Linked DNA regions of Homo sapiens. The main gene of each other region encodes a partner of the protein of the gene in region 2 in a complex. Each region holds a gene or a part of one and is shown on either strand. Other genes may lie near its edges.

Region 1 (7,029 bases), on a different chromosome or scaffold from region 2:
GACCTCAGAGGCACTCCACACTTTTCCAAGAGGGTATTGCAAAATCTGCACCATTCTTTTAAAAGGCAAAATGGTGACTTTCTGCCTGAAAACAGCCTGAAGTCCCTTGTGGTCCTCTGAGTCCACGCTTCAAAGATGTTTCTCTCCTTAGACACTAGTGTGGCATCAGAGGTCCACCAAAGGTGGATGTCTCTGCAAATACTTTCCAAATTACTTGTTGCAGGAAGCTGATTAATGCTATTTTAACAGTTAAATCTGAAAAAATAGAACCAGTGTCTTTAAATCTGTGTTGTGATTATCTCAGGTAATAGACTTGGCATTTGTACTATGAGTCTGTTGGGCACAAAATGTTCAATTGCCTGAACCCAATAAGGAATGGATTTTTCTGGCTTTTAGCCTTAACACCCAACTTTAAAAAAAAAAATGTTTACAGCATGAGCAACTAGGTGACACTCTGCTTGAAAGCAGGAGCCTAGAGGGACAGACAGCATACCACATGGTGCATGCAGCAGTTTTCAACCTGTGGTGTTGGGTTTCAATCAGGCTGGTGGGAAAAATATTAGAGATAGTTATAGAAATAGACACAAATCTTCTTGGAAGGCTGAGAAGTTTGCCTAACTTCAGTAATAGATCTGGCTGAAGGCGGCCTGATCTCTTTACCTTTAAACAAATTAAAATAGTAATAAAGAAAGGCAGAGTAGTTTACCTGGCTAGCTTGTTTACTCATATAAAGACTAACCTTTGATGTACCGTGAGTGCTTAAGTGCCTTTTACTCAGAAGTCCACAATGTCAATTTCCCTCTAATGGTGTTGACTCAAGCTTTTGTTAATTAATCTTACTGAATAAATGCGAGTCTGACTAGCTGATCAGGGCCTAGTTGCAACTGTTTACAGGACTCAGCAGGAGCCTGTAAGCGGCTGGGACCCTCAGCTGGACTGGCAGAGCAGAATATCTGTGTGTCAGCATACTTTATTTATCCGTTGCTGAATCGGGTCTGCAAGAACAGACCTCCCGCAGCTAGTGCCCCCGTGAAAGGAGCGCTGCCTCACTGTGGTGACTTACGAGGCCACTGAGACGGGAGTAGACTGAGGAAGGGATAGTAGACCAAGCAGGAATGGTTCTGGTTCACCTGAAGTTAAAAGTGTTCTTATGATACTTTCAGTTTTCTTCTATTAGACTGGGTAATCTTTAAAATATCTTTGAACGCTTAAATTCTGATTTTATGACCACTTTCATTAAGGCTCAAAATATTCTCTGTGGTGTTTCTGTACCTCTGCAGTCATGCTGGGATTTTCAAAACTCAGTTAAATGTGTGAGGCAGATTTGAGAAATAAGATATTTTATTAGAGTTTCAGGATTCCCCGACTATATAGTCCTCTTTCATCTGAATTCGACCAAGTTTCCACCACTGCTTACTCTGAGGACCAATGGCCATAGAGACAAGCCACCTAATGAAAGAATGAGCCAGCTCAAAGCCAAAGTCCTGCAAAATGCTCGGGCTTCTTTACCATACTGTTTATCATACTTTGCCATGTGATAGTTACTCTATATTTTAGTATCTAATATAATTGTTTAATAATATACTGATAGTTCTGAGCGCTGTAGAAATGTGGAATTTGCCTATTGCTTGGCCTCGAGGACTGTGGATTTTCTCATTTCTGTCACTTATATTTTATTGAATATACTTCACAATAAAGTAAAAATCTGTAATGAATGATTTAGTATGTATGCACAGTTCCTGGATGTGATGCCTAGTTCTTGATTGGTATGTACCTTTGTAATAATCTATATGGGCATTTGTAGTTTTATACTGAATGTACCACTTGTTGATGAAATTTGAAAATTTATTTTTATTTGATTTAGTTTCTTTTTTCCCCCAGCACACAGCATGCCTCTGCAATGCCATCATTGCTTTGCTGAAAGTTCCCCTTTCTTTCCAGAGATATTTTTTCCAGAAACTACAGTCTACCAGCATCAAGGTAATACAGGAAGAATACTAAGGTTAATATAGGTTTTAAAACCAGGTGTCTTCTGAAGATTATGTAGGACATAGCTACACTTCAGTGTGTTACCTTTGGTTTATTGGTTTTTTTGTTTTGTTTTGTTTTTTGAGACAGAGTCTCGCCCTGTCGCCTGGGCTGGAGTACAGTGGTGTGATTTTGGCTCACCGCAACCTCCGGGTTCAAGCGATTCTCCTGCCTCAGCCTCCCAAGGAACTGGGATTACAGGCATCCACCACCTCACGCAGCTGATTTTTTTATTTTTGGTAAAGATGGGGTTTCACCATGTTGGCTAGGCTGGTCAGGAACTCCTGACCTCAAGTGATCCACCCACCTCTGCCTCCCAAAGTGCTGGGATTACAGGCATGAGCCACTGTGCCTGGCTTACCTTTGGTTTTGATAAAACCTAGTTGTAAGCCATTTCTCTCCTTTATCAAGTGGTTTGGTGAAAGAAATGAATTTGGGAGTTAAACTCTCTCCCTTTTTAATTGTCAGTGCCAAATTCTATGAGACAGGCATTTGGGTAACTGGAGCTCTGTTGTTTGTCTCTCACCTCCAGGAATAAATTAGTGATTTATCACAGTAGCCTGCAAGGATCTTGAGCTGAGTCTATTCAGACCCAACTTATAGACCCAACTTAGAATGAATCAGATCCAGTAAACTGTCACCAGTTCTTCTTCCAAAGTACTTCTGCCTTTCAGTAACATGTTTTGAGGGGCTAACCAGTGAGTAGAATTAGTATTTTGAAATATTTAAGCCACTCACAATTCAAAAGCTATTTTTGATTCAGAAAATGAAATTGTTGGAAAAGGGAGAAAATTGTCACTTCTAAGAGATCTCCTGGATTATCCCTGTTAGTTAATGTCTTCAGTAAACTTTTACATCCATGCAAATGTTTTGATTACAAATAACAGAGCATTCCATTTCAAAATGACTGGAATAATGAGGAAGATTTGACGATCTAGATAAGAAGTCCTAAAGTAGGATGTCTCCAGGGTTGATCAGTAGTTCAACAACATTATCAAAAAGACTCAAATTTCTTCCATCTTTTCATTTAGCAAGACTTGGGCTTTCTTTAATTGATGTGTTTGGGATTTTTAATACATTTTTGAAGAAAAACTAATGAGAGGTGAAAAATGTCATTTGATTCATTTGTAGATATTGACTTTTTTTATAGCACAGTGACTTCGTTGTGTAGATAATCCTGGAACTTTAAGTTCATTTACATTTGAATTTAGTTTATTTAAAATTACGTAAGACCAAAGAGACAGCTCTTAGGTAATGAAAATTTATATAATGCCTTTCCCTACTAGAAGTGGTTCATTGTCAAAGAAATGCCTCACCACAAAAATTGGGAGAATAGTGCCTTTGCTTTTTTCTAATTCTCTATTATCCTCAAATAGAACTGAGGTTTGGGATGAAAACCACAGTGATGTTTAGAAGGAGGCACTTTAAAGGTACATCTGTCTCGTTGTCCTGGCACAGTCAGGTCCTGTGGGGGTGGGGGAGTGCACAATCGAATTTGTTAACCTGTAACCAGTGATTAGCACAGACATGTTTGTCGGAAGGAAGCTTGCTCTTGGTTGTTGGCATTTATTTGAGTGTTGGCATTCCAGCTTGCTCTGTCACCATCGCCCCGGAATCCTGCAGAGCCCATTGCTGTCCAGAATAACCAGCAGCTGGCGCTAAAGGTAGAGGGAGTGGTTCAGCACGGATCTAAACCAGGACTCTTCCGCAAAATTCAGTCTGTCTGTCTGAATGTTTCTTCCACACTGCAGAGTAAATCTGGACAAGACTACAAGGTAATTTAGAAAAGAGGCAGAATTGTGATACAGGTTTTATATGAGCTCATTGATGGAAGTTTTCCAGTGTTTTTCATGGTTAAATAGATTGCAGTTATACCTCCAAAGGGATCAGATGGACATAAATTAAAAGCCCACATTGGGGCTGTAAGGGGTTGATAAACACTTCTTTTTCTCTCCCTGAACCAGTTGATAGAGACAAAGCATCCAGGCAAAGATCAAAATATGAGTTTTATTACTGTTGGAGCTGTGGGAAAACCTAACTCCAATGCCTGGCAGCAAGGCCTTTCTAACCGTAGACCCCTGAATTGGATTTTTTCACCCAGCCTCAGTCAGTACGTATGGGAGCCTGCCCCTATAAAATTTATGGCAGGGCACAGAGGACTCAGGTGCCCAAAGCAGAAGAGAAAGAGCAAGTGCTTACCTTCCCATGTCTGGTTCCTGCCCAGAAAGTCACCCATCAGCAAGACTCACCTCCTCCCTGCTAGGTCAGTAATATTAATCTAACGAAAGGTCTCTCTTACATCAGGAGGTCCCTTCAAACGTCAGAAGTTGGAAAATAAGTGTCTCCCTAACCCACCCAATCCCTCCCCACAAAAAATACACATCTATTTAGTTTTCTCCATTTTAAGTAAATTTTATCATTAAAAAAAGTATATAGCATTTCTATAAAATGATCAGATAAAGTAAAATCTTTTTTTAAGAGTGTAACCCTAGGGATTTGCTGCCTTGGGAACTCAGGATATAGGTAAGTAATAACCTGAATTAGGCTACATTGTTAGCCAGAGCTAAGATGCTGAATCTGTGCCCATGAAATGCCAGTGTTCGAGATAAAGAATGTTCCTTGCTTTAGACATTTATTTCCGATTCCCTGGTGGTTTATCCACAGTAAATGAAGCAAGGGACCAAGTCCACAGTTGTAGCAGCGAAGTTACTCAGATGCCCAGATTGGCTGTGTCCAGGTTTATTGTGGCATAGCATGGAAGGCAGGGTATCAGTGAAGGTATAAAAAGAGAGCATTTTATTATCTTTGGTGGTTTTAGGTTAAAAAGCCAAGGGAAGGTCTGGTTCTAAACTATTATTACTTTCTTAAGCCATTACTACTTTCTTAACTATGGCAAGTTCCTCTCACTTTGGCACTCTGTCCACTCTGACACGGCTGAGCCTTCATTCTCCTCTTTTCCTCTGTTTTGACTTCTGTGCCATACAGCATGGTACCTTATGTAGCCACTCAATAATTTGTGAATGATGAAAAAATTATTTACTATATTTAGAGTATAACTGTTAAAATTGGGTATCTGCTGTCACAGAAGGTTGTAATGAGAATTTACATAATTTATCCCTGTCTGCAACTCTCTCTTCACTTTGAATTTGAAACAGTAGTAACCATGATTCTCTTTGTTACTTGCATATAATTTCTACTGTTAAGAAAATAACATTCAAACCTAGAAGCTATGGTCTTCTGCTTGTTGACCTACCTCTCAAGAGGCATTGATTAAAGTCAGGAAGCTGATATAATAAGCCGAGTAATAACATGATTACTTTGCAGTGTTATTCACAGTGAGTTTGCAGCTTAAGATGCAGCCATCCATTCAGGGTGATCAGGTTCCCTAGGCCTATTTCTGGTCCTTTTAAGGAAGTTCTTTGGTTGGCATATTCTTTAGGGAAATAAAAACTGTACAAAGGCTAAATGTGAAAAAGTACCTGTACTATAAATAATTCTAAGACCTTGAATTGGTTGGTGACGTCAGTTCATTACTATTACAGGTAAATGTCTCTGGAAAAGTGACATGATAACTGCTCCTTGAGACACAAAGCTGCAGGGCACATTTATATAATTAATTACACCACAGAAACACGCACATAAACCTAGAGTAATTTGGTCAAATACACATTAAGATCACCTTTATTTGCATTCTCAGGATAAATCTGTCTCTTGACACGTTTCATCTTGGGTACAGGTAAGAGTACGTCAGCAGGTTTTATTCTGGTCTTTGAAGAACAAAGGCATGAGTGTCTGGCTAAATGAATGAGCCTATAAATCTGTGTTTTATAACATATTGTACTTCCAGTCTGAACAAAACAGTGCTTATTAAATGAGCAATGTACAAATGGTTCAGTTAATTTGTTAAAGGAGTAAGGAATCACTACATTAAGTAATAAAAATCAGACTAACTGTTGGGGGGGAACCTAACTTAAATTTGCTTAGTGTTTTGTTCTTTTTCAGTCTCTTAGGTTTTAAACTCTCTGGAACAGGTGATTTCATCCTATTTCTTCAGAATATCTCTTCACAGTCTAAAGGAAGATAGGGATTTAGAGATGGGGTTGAGTAAGCAAGGAAGAAAGGCCAGCATGTGAAGGGGCTGTCAACGGCTCTGGGAGCTCATTCTACTCAAGTAGAGTGAGGAGCATCACTTAGTAGTTCAGAGTGTAGGCCCTGGAGGTAGTCTGCCTGTGTTCAGATTCCTACTCCGTTCACTAATCATGTGACTTTGGAGACATTACTTAACCTGTCTGCCTTAGACTCCTCATCGGTGAAGCAAGGATGATAGCAGTACCTAATTTTTTATTGTCTGCATGGTCTAAATAAGCTCTTAGAACAGGGCCTAACTCATAGTAAGCACTGAAGAAATGTTAGCCATTGTTGTTAGTTAACAATTGTTTCATTGCAGATACCCATTGACAACATGACCAATGAGATGGAGCAAAGGGTTGAACCTCATAATGATTACTTCAGTACTCAATTTCTGTTGAACTTTGCTATCCTTGGAACACACAACATTACAGTGGAATCTTCTGTGAAAGATGCCAATGGTATAGTATGGAAGACTGGTCCCAGAACTACCATATTTGTAAAATCCCTGGAAGACCCTTATTCCCAGCAAATTCGCTTACAACAGCAGCAAGCCCAGCAGCCATTACAGCAGCAGCAGCAACGCAATGCCTACACACGGTTTTAACCATGGAATGAATGCACTGCAGACTCTCAAGAGATCAATCAAATTGCCAGAAACAGTTTGGTTTTTCATATGGAATAAGTATTAAAGTTACAGTGTAGTTCATTTATTCATTGATTTTTGTAATGTAATATTCTGGAAAAAATTTTGTTTTCTTAAAAATTTTGTCTGACAGCTGGGCGTGGTTGCTCACGCCTGTAATCCCAGCACTTTGGGAGGCTGAGGTGGGCGGCTCACGAGGAGATCAAGACCATCCTGGCTAACACAGT
Region 2 (7,068 bases):
CTGGAGATGGATGGTGGTGATGGCTGCATAACAATATGAATGTACTTAACACACATGAACTGCACACTTAAAATGGTTAAGATAATAAATTTTAATTGTTACCACAATTAAGAAATGATTAGCCAGGCATGGTGGCACATGCCTATAGTTCCAGCTACTTAGGAGGCTGAGGTGAGAGGATTGCATAAGCCTGGGAGGTGGAGGTTTCAGTGAACCATGATAGCACCACTGCACTCCAGCCTGGAGTGAGACCTTGTTAGGAAAAAAAAGGGAAAAAAGGGGGGGAAAAGAAAATAAATGTAAATGAAAAAAAAAAAAAAGCAGATAAGAGAGCATCTGACCTAGTGACATTCCTTATCCATTTGGATACTTTACTCAAGTTCTTTTACTTTCTGAAATAATCCCTTAGCACTCCTTCTACTATGACACATAAATGATCTCCTTCACACCTGAGCTAAAAACAGAATTACCTCCAGGGAAGCCTTCTCTAATAATTGTTTCTTCTGACCATTAAAACTGTCTTGGTTCAGGCTTTCATCACCTTTCCCCAAACTTACAGTCTTCTAATTGGTCACTCTAACTCCAGTCCATCCAATTCCTTTATCCTCCATACTTCCCCTCAGAGTGACATTTCTAAAACAAAAACTGACAAGGTAGAATACAAGGCCCTTTAGAATCAGATGCCTTCCAAATCTTCTGGTCTTATCTCTTGATGAGCTCCCAACCTAAAATCTGCACCAGCCAAACTAGCTGCATTTCTTCTAATGTGATAGCCTGTCTCACATCTCCATGCCCATGTTCACGGTTGCTCACAACTAAAATGTCTTTCCCCCTGTCTTCCAACTGGCCAAAATCTATTTCTAGGACTTTTCTCAAGCATCGCTACCACTCTATAATGCATTTCTGGATCCCTGCTTCCAATAATTAATCGCCCCCTTCTTTGAGGCCATATCATAACCTACCCCAGATTTCATAAGACCTGAAACACTGTATTGTTATTAATTCATTTCTTATTTACTCAAGACTCAGATCAGGGATTACATCATCTACATCTCTATTACCAACATGAAGCACAAAGCCTGGCACAGAGTAAGTATTCAGACATGCTGAGCAAATGAAAAAATAAGCAAATGGAAAACTTTAGCACTTACTATCTACATACTACATATATGGTCTGCCGACTACACTGCTAGCCCCTAAAGGACAAAGAACATATCTCACAGCTCTGCATCCTCCATAGCTACTAGCACAGTAGCATAAGTGAAGAATCAATCATGTGAAATAAGTTCAGATACTAATGCCTGATCACAAAAAAAAAGTAGGAAAAAGCAGAAGCCAGAGTAGTTTTATCCACTAAAATATTAACATAAAATACCACATTTCTGGATAGAACAGAAGAAAGGGTAAAAAACACTATGGTCAACAATCTAGAACTGGGTCCATCTGGCATCCCTCCTCATTTCCTTAGGAGCTAGGGTCCACTTGATTAATGCATGCAGCATGGACTGGTTAAAGTGCTTGAGATCTGACATCAGAACACCTGAGTTAAATTTTGCTTTTAGACATGACAAAAGATTATGTTTTTTAAGAGTCTTCGCCACATTTATGCAGCCAACAGACACATGAAAAAATGCTCACCATCACTGGTCATCAGAGAAATGCAAATCAAAACCACAATGAGATACCATCTCACATCAGTTAGAATGGCAATCATTAAAAAGTCAGGCAACAACAGATGCTGGAGAGGATGTGGAGAAATAGGAACACTTTTACACTGTTGGGAGTGTAAATTAGTTCAACCATTGTGGAAGAGAGTGCGGCAATTCCTCAAGGATCTAGAACTAGAAATACCATTTGACCCAGCAATCCCATTACTGGGTATATACCCAAAGGATTATAAATCATGCTACTATAAAGATACATGTGCACGTATGTTTATTGCGGCACTATTCACAAGAGCAAAGACTTGGAAGTAACCCAAATGTCCACCAACGATAGACTGGATTAAGAAAATGTGGCACATATACACCATGGAATACTATGCAGCCATAAAAAAGGATGCGTTCATGTCCTTCGCAGGGAAATGGATGAAGCTGAAAACCATCCTTCTCAGCAAACTATCACAAGGACAGAAAACCAAACACCGCATGTTCTCACTCATAGGTGGGAATTGAACAGTGAGAACACTTGGACACAGGGCGGGAAACATCACACACCGGGGCCTGTTGGGGAGTGGGGGGCTGGGGGAGGGATAGCATTAGGAGAAATACCTAAAGTAAATGATGAGTTAATGGGTGCAGCAAGCCAACATGGCACATGTATACACATGTAACAAACCTGCACGTTGTGCACATGTGCCCTAGAACCTAAAGTATAATAATAAAAAAAGAGTCTTCACCACTTAAAGATATAAATCAAAATTTATGATTAAAATAATATGATGCCAGGAATTTATTTTCATAAGAATCTGGTGGAGAAGGTGAGGGTAAAGAAGTAGAAGTGGATTGGGGAAGAGGGAAAATGAAACAAGTTTGGCCACAAAATGATAATTTTTGAAGCCAGGTAATGGGTACATGGGAATTAATTAAACTATTCTCTTTACTTACATAGTATATATCTGAAATGTTCCATAACAAAAGGTTTTTTAAAAAAAAAACCCAAGTTCAAATCCATACCTTCCATTTACTAGCTGGGTGACCTTGGATACTAAACAGCTCTAAGCTTAGTTCCATATCTGGAATTTAGAGATAACAATGGTGCTGTCACCAGGATTAAATAAAATATTACATATGGAAAGTGCTTTCAAACTCTAACAAGCAATATAATGTTAACTGCTCTAAGAAGTATTATTATAGATGATTATTGGTAACAGATCTTTAATATAATAATAATGGTAGATATTGCTAAGAAAAAGACTAACGGAAAATAGATCACTGAGAGATCGAAAACTTCTTGAGAACAGAAATCCTGATTTTGGTCAGATGTGGTAGCTCACGTCTGTAATCCCAATCCTTTGGGAGGGCCAAGCAGGAGGGTTGCTTGAGCTCAGGAATTCGCGACCAGCCTGGGCAACACAGAGAGACTCCATCTCTACAAAAAAAATTAAAAAGAAAAAATTAGCCGGGAGTGGTGGCATGTGCCTGTGGTCCCAGCTCCTCAGGAGGCTGAGGTGGGAGGATGGCTTGAGCCTGGGAGTCCAGACTTCAGTGGGCAGTGATCACGCCATTGCACTCTAGATTGGGCAACAGAGCAACACTCAAAAAGATGCCAGGCACAGTGGTTCATGCCTGTAATCCCAGCACTTTGGGAGGCTGAGGTAGGTGAATCGCTTGAGCCCAGGAGTTTGAGACCAACCTTGGTAACATGGTGAAACCTCATCTCTATCAAAAATATAAAAATTAGCCAGTCTCATAACCCAGTCTCTAGATAGATAGATACGATTTTTTAAAAAATTTTTTAAAGAAAAGAACAACAAAAAAAGAAAGCCTGATTTTATTCACGTAAAACATAAGTGAAACATTTATAATGTCCCTTCAATGTTCCTAGGAACCTGCCAGGCACTGGGATAGAGACTAATGGATCTGCAGCCTCTGAATTTACGGAGCTCAAAGTCTGAAGGAGATAGACACATATGGCAAACAATTGCAACGCATAAGACTTAACAATTGTGCTAATGGACACCGTCCAGTGCCCAGAACAAAGTCTGATATATATTTGTTGAGTAAAATGTATCACAAAAGCATCAATTAATTCATTTATTCATTCAACAAATATTTATTTTACCAGGCACTGTTCTTGATTCTGTAGAAACAACAATTAAAAAACATAAAAATCCCTGCTCAAGGGAAGCTTATGTTCCTGCATGGGGAAATGGACAAGGAACATAATTAACAAGAAATTATACAGAATATTAGAAGATGGTAATTACTATGGAGAAAACAAAATCAAGGAAGGGGACTAGGAAGTGCGGGGTGGGGATAGGCAGTTTCGATATGAAACAGAAGGGTAAAGGAAGACCTCAATGTAACGGTGACATTTGCATGCTGATAGCTGCAATATGAAGTACAAGTCACCATTTATAACATAGTCTTAAAATTGTCAAAAATATGCTTAACTTAAATCTAACAAAGCCTATAGATCTAACTTTCAGTTCATAGTAAATACAGAGAACAGAGGAACAAGTTAATCCTTAAAGAAGTAAATGAATTCAGAAAACAAGACATTTTACAAAAGAACTGTCTCAGTTTCTTCATCAAATCAATGTCACCAAAATAGTAACTGTTGTAGATTTTTGAAAAGACTGAATGCCATGTGGGGACCTGGTTTGCATTTTGATTTGAATACATCAACTATAAAAAGGTACTGGGAGAACAACTACAGAAATCTAAATATCAACTAATTCTTAGATGACATTAAAGAATTACTTAACTTTATTCATTAGGGTTAGGTGGCTATGTTAAAAAATAAAAAGTCCCTCTACTTTCTCATAGCAGTGAGAAAAAAAAAGAAAACAACAAAAAGGTATCCCTTTTTAATAGATATGTAATGAAATAATTAGAAAAAAATGACATATCTTTTTAAAAATTCAACAAAACAAGGCTGGGCGCGGTGGCTCACACCTGTAATCCCAGCACTTTGGGAGGCCGAGGCAGGTGGATCACCCGAGGTCTGGAATTCGAGACTAGCCTGGCCAACATGGTGAAACCCCATCTCTACTAAAAATACAGAATTAGCTGAGCGTGATGGCGCACTCCTGTAGTCCCAGCTACTTGGGAGGCTGAGGCAGGAGAACTGCTTGAACCCAGGAGTGCTATTACACTCCAGCCTGGGCAACAGAGTGAGACTCATCTCAAAAAAAATAATAACAAAATAAAATAAAATTCAGCGAAAAAATAGAGCAAATTTGGCAAAATACTAATAACTGTTAAATTCTAGGAATGGATATTTGGTAGGTCACTATAGTATTTTATCTACTTTTCCATAAGCTTAACAATTTGGGGGCTGAGTGTGGTGGTTCACACCTGTAATCTCAGCAATTTGGAAGCCCAAGGAGGGTGGATTGCTTGAGCCCAGGAATTCGAGATCAGCCTGTGCAACATAGCAAAGCCCTGTCTCTACAAAAAAAAAAAAAAAATACAAAAATTAGCCAGGCATGCTGCACATGCCTGTAGTCCCAGCTACTCAGAAGGCTGAGGCAGGAGGATCAATTGAGCCTCGGAGGTCGAGGGTACAGTGAGCCGTGATAGCACCACTGCACTCCCGCCTGGGCGAGAAAGCAAGACCCCATCTCAAAAATAATAATAGTAATAATAATAATGATTTTTGGGCTGGGAATGGTAGCTCACGCTTGCAATCCCAGCACTTTGGGAGGCCAGGGTGCATGGATCACTTGAGGTCAGGAGTACAAGACCAGCCTGGCCAACACAGCAAAACCCCACCTCTACTAAAAATACAAAAAAAATTAGCTGGGTGTGGTGTCACACACCTGCGGTCCTAGCCACTCTGGAGGCTGACGCAGGAGAATCACTTAAACCAAAGAGACGGAGGTTGCAGTGAGCCAAGATTGTGCCACCACTATACTCCAGGCTGAGTGACAGACCAAGTCTCAAAAAAAAAAAAAAAAAAAATGCAAAACTTAGCCTGGAGTAGTGGCACGTCTGCAGTCCCACCTACGTGGAAGGCTGAGCCAGGAGAATCACTTAAGCCCAGGAGTTCCAGGCTACAGTGACCTATGATGATGCCACTAAACTCTAGGCTGGGTGACAGTGAGCCTCTGTCTCAAAAACAGTTTTTTTGGCCAGACGCAGTGGCTCACGCCTGTAATCCTAACACTTTGGGAGGCCAAGGTGGCTGCATCACTTAAAGTCAGGAGTTCGAGACCAGCCTGGCCAACATGGCAAAACCCCGTCTCTACTAAAAATACAAAAATTAGCAGGGTGTGGTGGCACGTGCCTGTAATCCCAGCTACTAAGGAGGCTGAGGCAGGAGAATCGCTTGAACCCAGGAGGCAGAGGTTGCAGCGAGCCAAGATTGCACTACTGCACTCCAGCATGGGCAACAGAGCGAGACTCTGTCTCCAAAAAAAAAAAAAAAAAAATGTATTTTTAATTAAAAAAGAGGGCCACTGCAATTAGATATGAGGGCCATGAATTAGGAAAGGAACAGCAGGACCACATTCCAGAGATGAATGGGTCATGATTGATATTTACTCCTCTTTTGTGCTTCCACTGTACTCTGCACATACTGCACTCACAGTAACTTCAGCAGTATGATGCACCTTATCATTGACATGTCTTGTTTCCATCTACTATACACAGTATAACTTTCTGAGGTCAAGATCTGTATCTTTTTTATCTCGGTATCCATAGTACCTAGCACTTGGAAGACACTCAATAAAAGCTTCCTAATGAATACCCTATTTATTTGTAATATTAACCATTCTGCAGACATGATACAACTCCCATGATATACTCCCATCAGATCCTCAAGATTTTCTTACCTTGTAATAATGTTCCAAGAGAATCCTGACTACTCCCTCTACGCTTTCCGCCTCGACAGGCTTCCTGGCAAACTGGAGCAAGTATTGCAAAGCATCTGCTGGGGAGGTAGCTTTACACAGATCTATGTGGAGTGCTGCAGATTTACTTGGTTTTGTTAGTCGGAGTTTCTTAGTAGCAATTTCCTCCTGTGGCTGCAAGGGGTAGAGAAAATCGAAAACACAGAATCTGCAAATTTAACTTTGCCTCATTTGGTGGAAATGATTTTCCATTATACCAAATAATATATTTAGCTGATGGACTTAGGAAAATACAGTATTATAAACCAGAAAGAGTACCGGGTTGGTGACAAGGCCATGAGTCTCAATTTTGCCTTTACCAGTTCCTATGACTTTAGGCAAGTCATTTAATTTCTCCGAGTCTCAGTTTATGTCTCTGTAAAATAGGTATACTTTTTTTTTTTCTTAGAGATGGAGTCTCTCTATGTTGCCCAGGCTGGTCTTAACTCCTGGGCTCAAGCAATCCTGGCACCTCAGCCTCCCAAAGTGCTGGGATTACAAGCATGAGCCAC

What was found. The genes of interacting proteins can lie anywhere in the genome.
Region 1: the proteins of INTS4 (region 2) and INTS7 are in contact, whole or in part, in a cryo-EM structure (PDB 8RC4), measured with the Homo sapiens proteins. Residues at the interface, in NP_291025.3 of Homo sapiens: Glu536, Met539, Asp540, Arg571, His572, Ala574, Tyr575, Asp578, Ser579, Ser610, Phe613, Arg620, Leu624, Leu627, Gly631, Glu634, Leu635, Phe638, Arg641, Asp642, Arg645, Leu646, Glu648, Leu649, Gln650, Lys677, Leu678, Trp679, Asn680, Val681; in NP_056249.1 of Homo sapiens: Lys137, Asn138, His140, His141, Arg144, Gln145, Gly175, His205, His206, Asp207, Ala208, Ser244, Ser245, Leu246, Val247, Lys282, Thr283, Pro284, His285, Thr286, Thr321, Ile322, Lys325, His326, Gly686, Tyr689, Glu704, Gln707, Gln708, Leu711.

Annotation. Positions count from the first base shown.
Region 1 is NC_000001.11:211,941,558-211,948,586, reverse strand, and holds part of INTS7 (integrator complex subunit 7), read left to right. Parts: intron 1-1,881; coding exon 1,882-1,980; intron 1,981-3,617; coding exon 3,618-3,803; intron 3,804-6,475; coding exon 6,476-6,763; 3' UTR 6,764-7,029. UniProt on the Homo sapiens protein: Component of the integrator complex, a multiprotein complex that terminates RNA polymerase II (Pol II) transcription in the promoter-proximal region of genes.
Region 2 is NC_000011.10:77,984,609-77,991,676, forward strand, and holds part of INTS4 (integrator complex subunit 4), read right to left. Parts: intron 6,692-7,068; coding exon 6,500-6,691; intron 1-6,499. UniProt on the Homo sapiens protein: Component of the integrator complex, a multiprotein complex that terminates RNA polymerase II (Pol II) transcription in the promoter-proximal region of genes.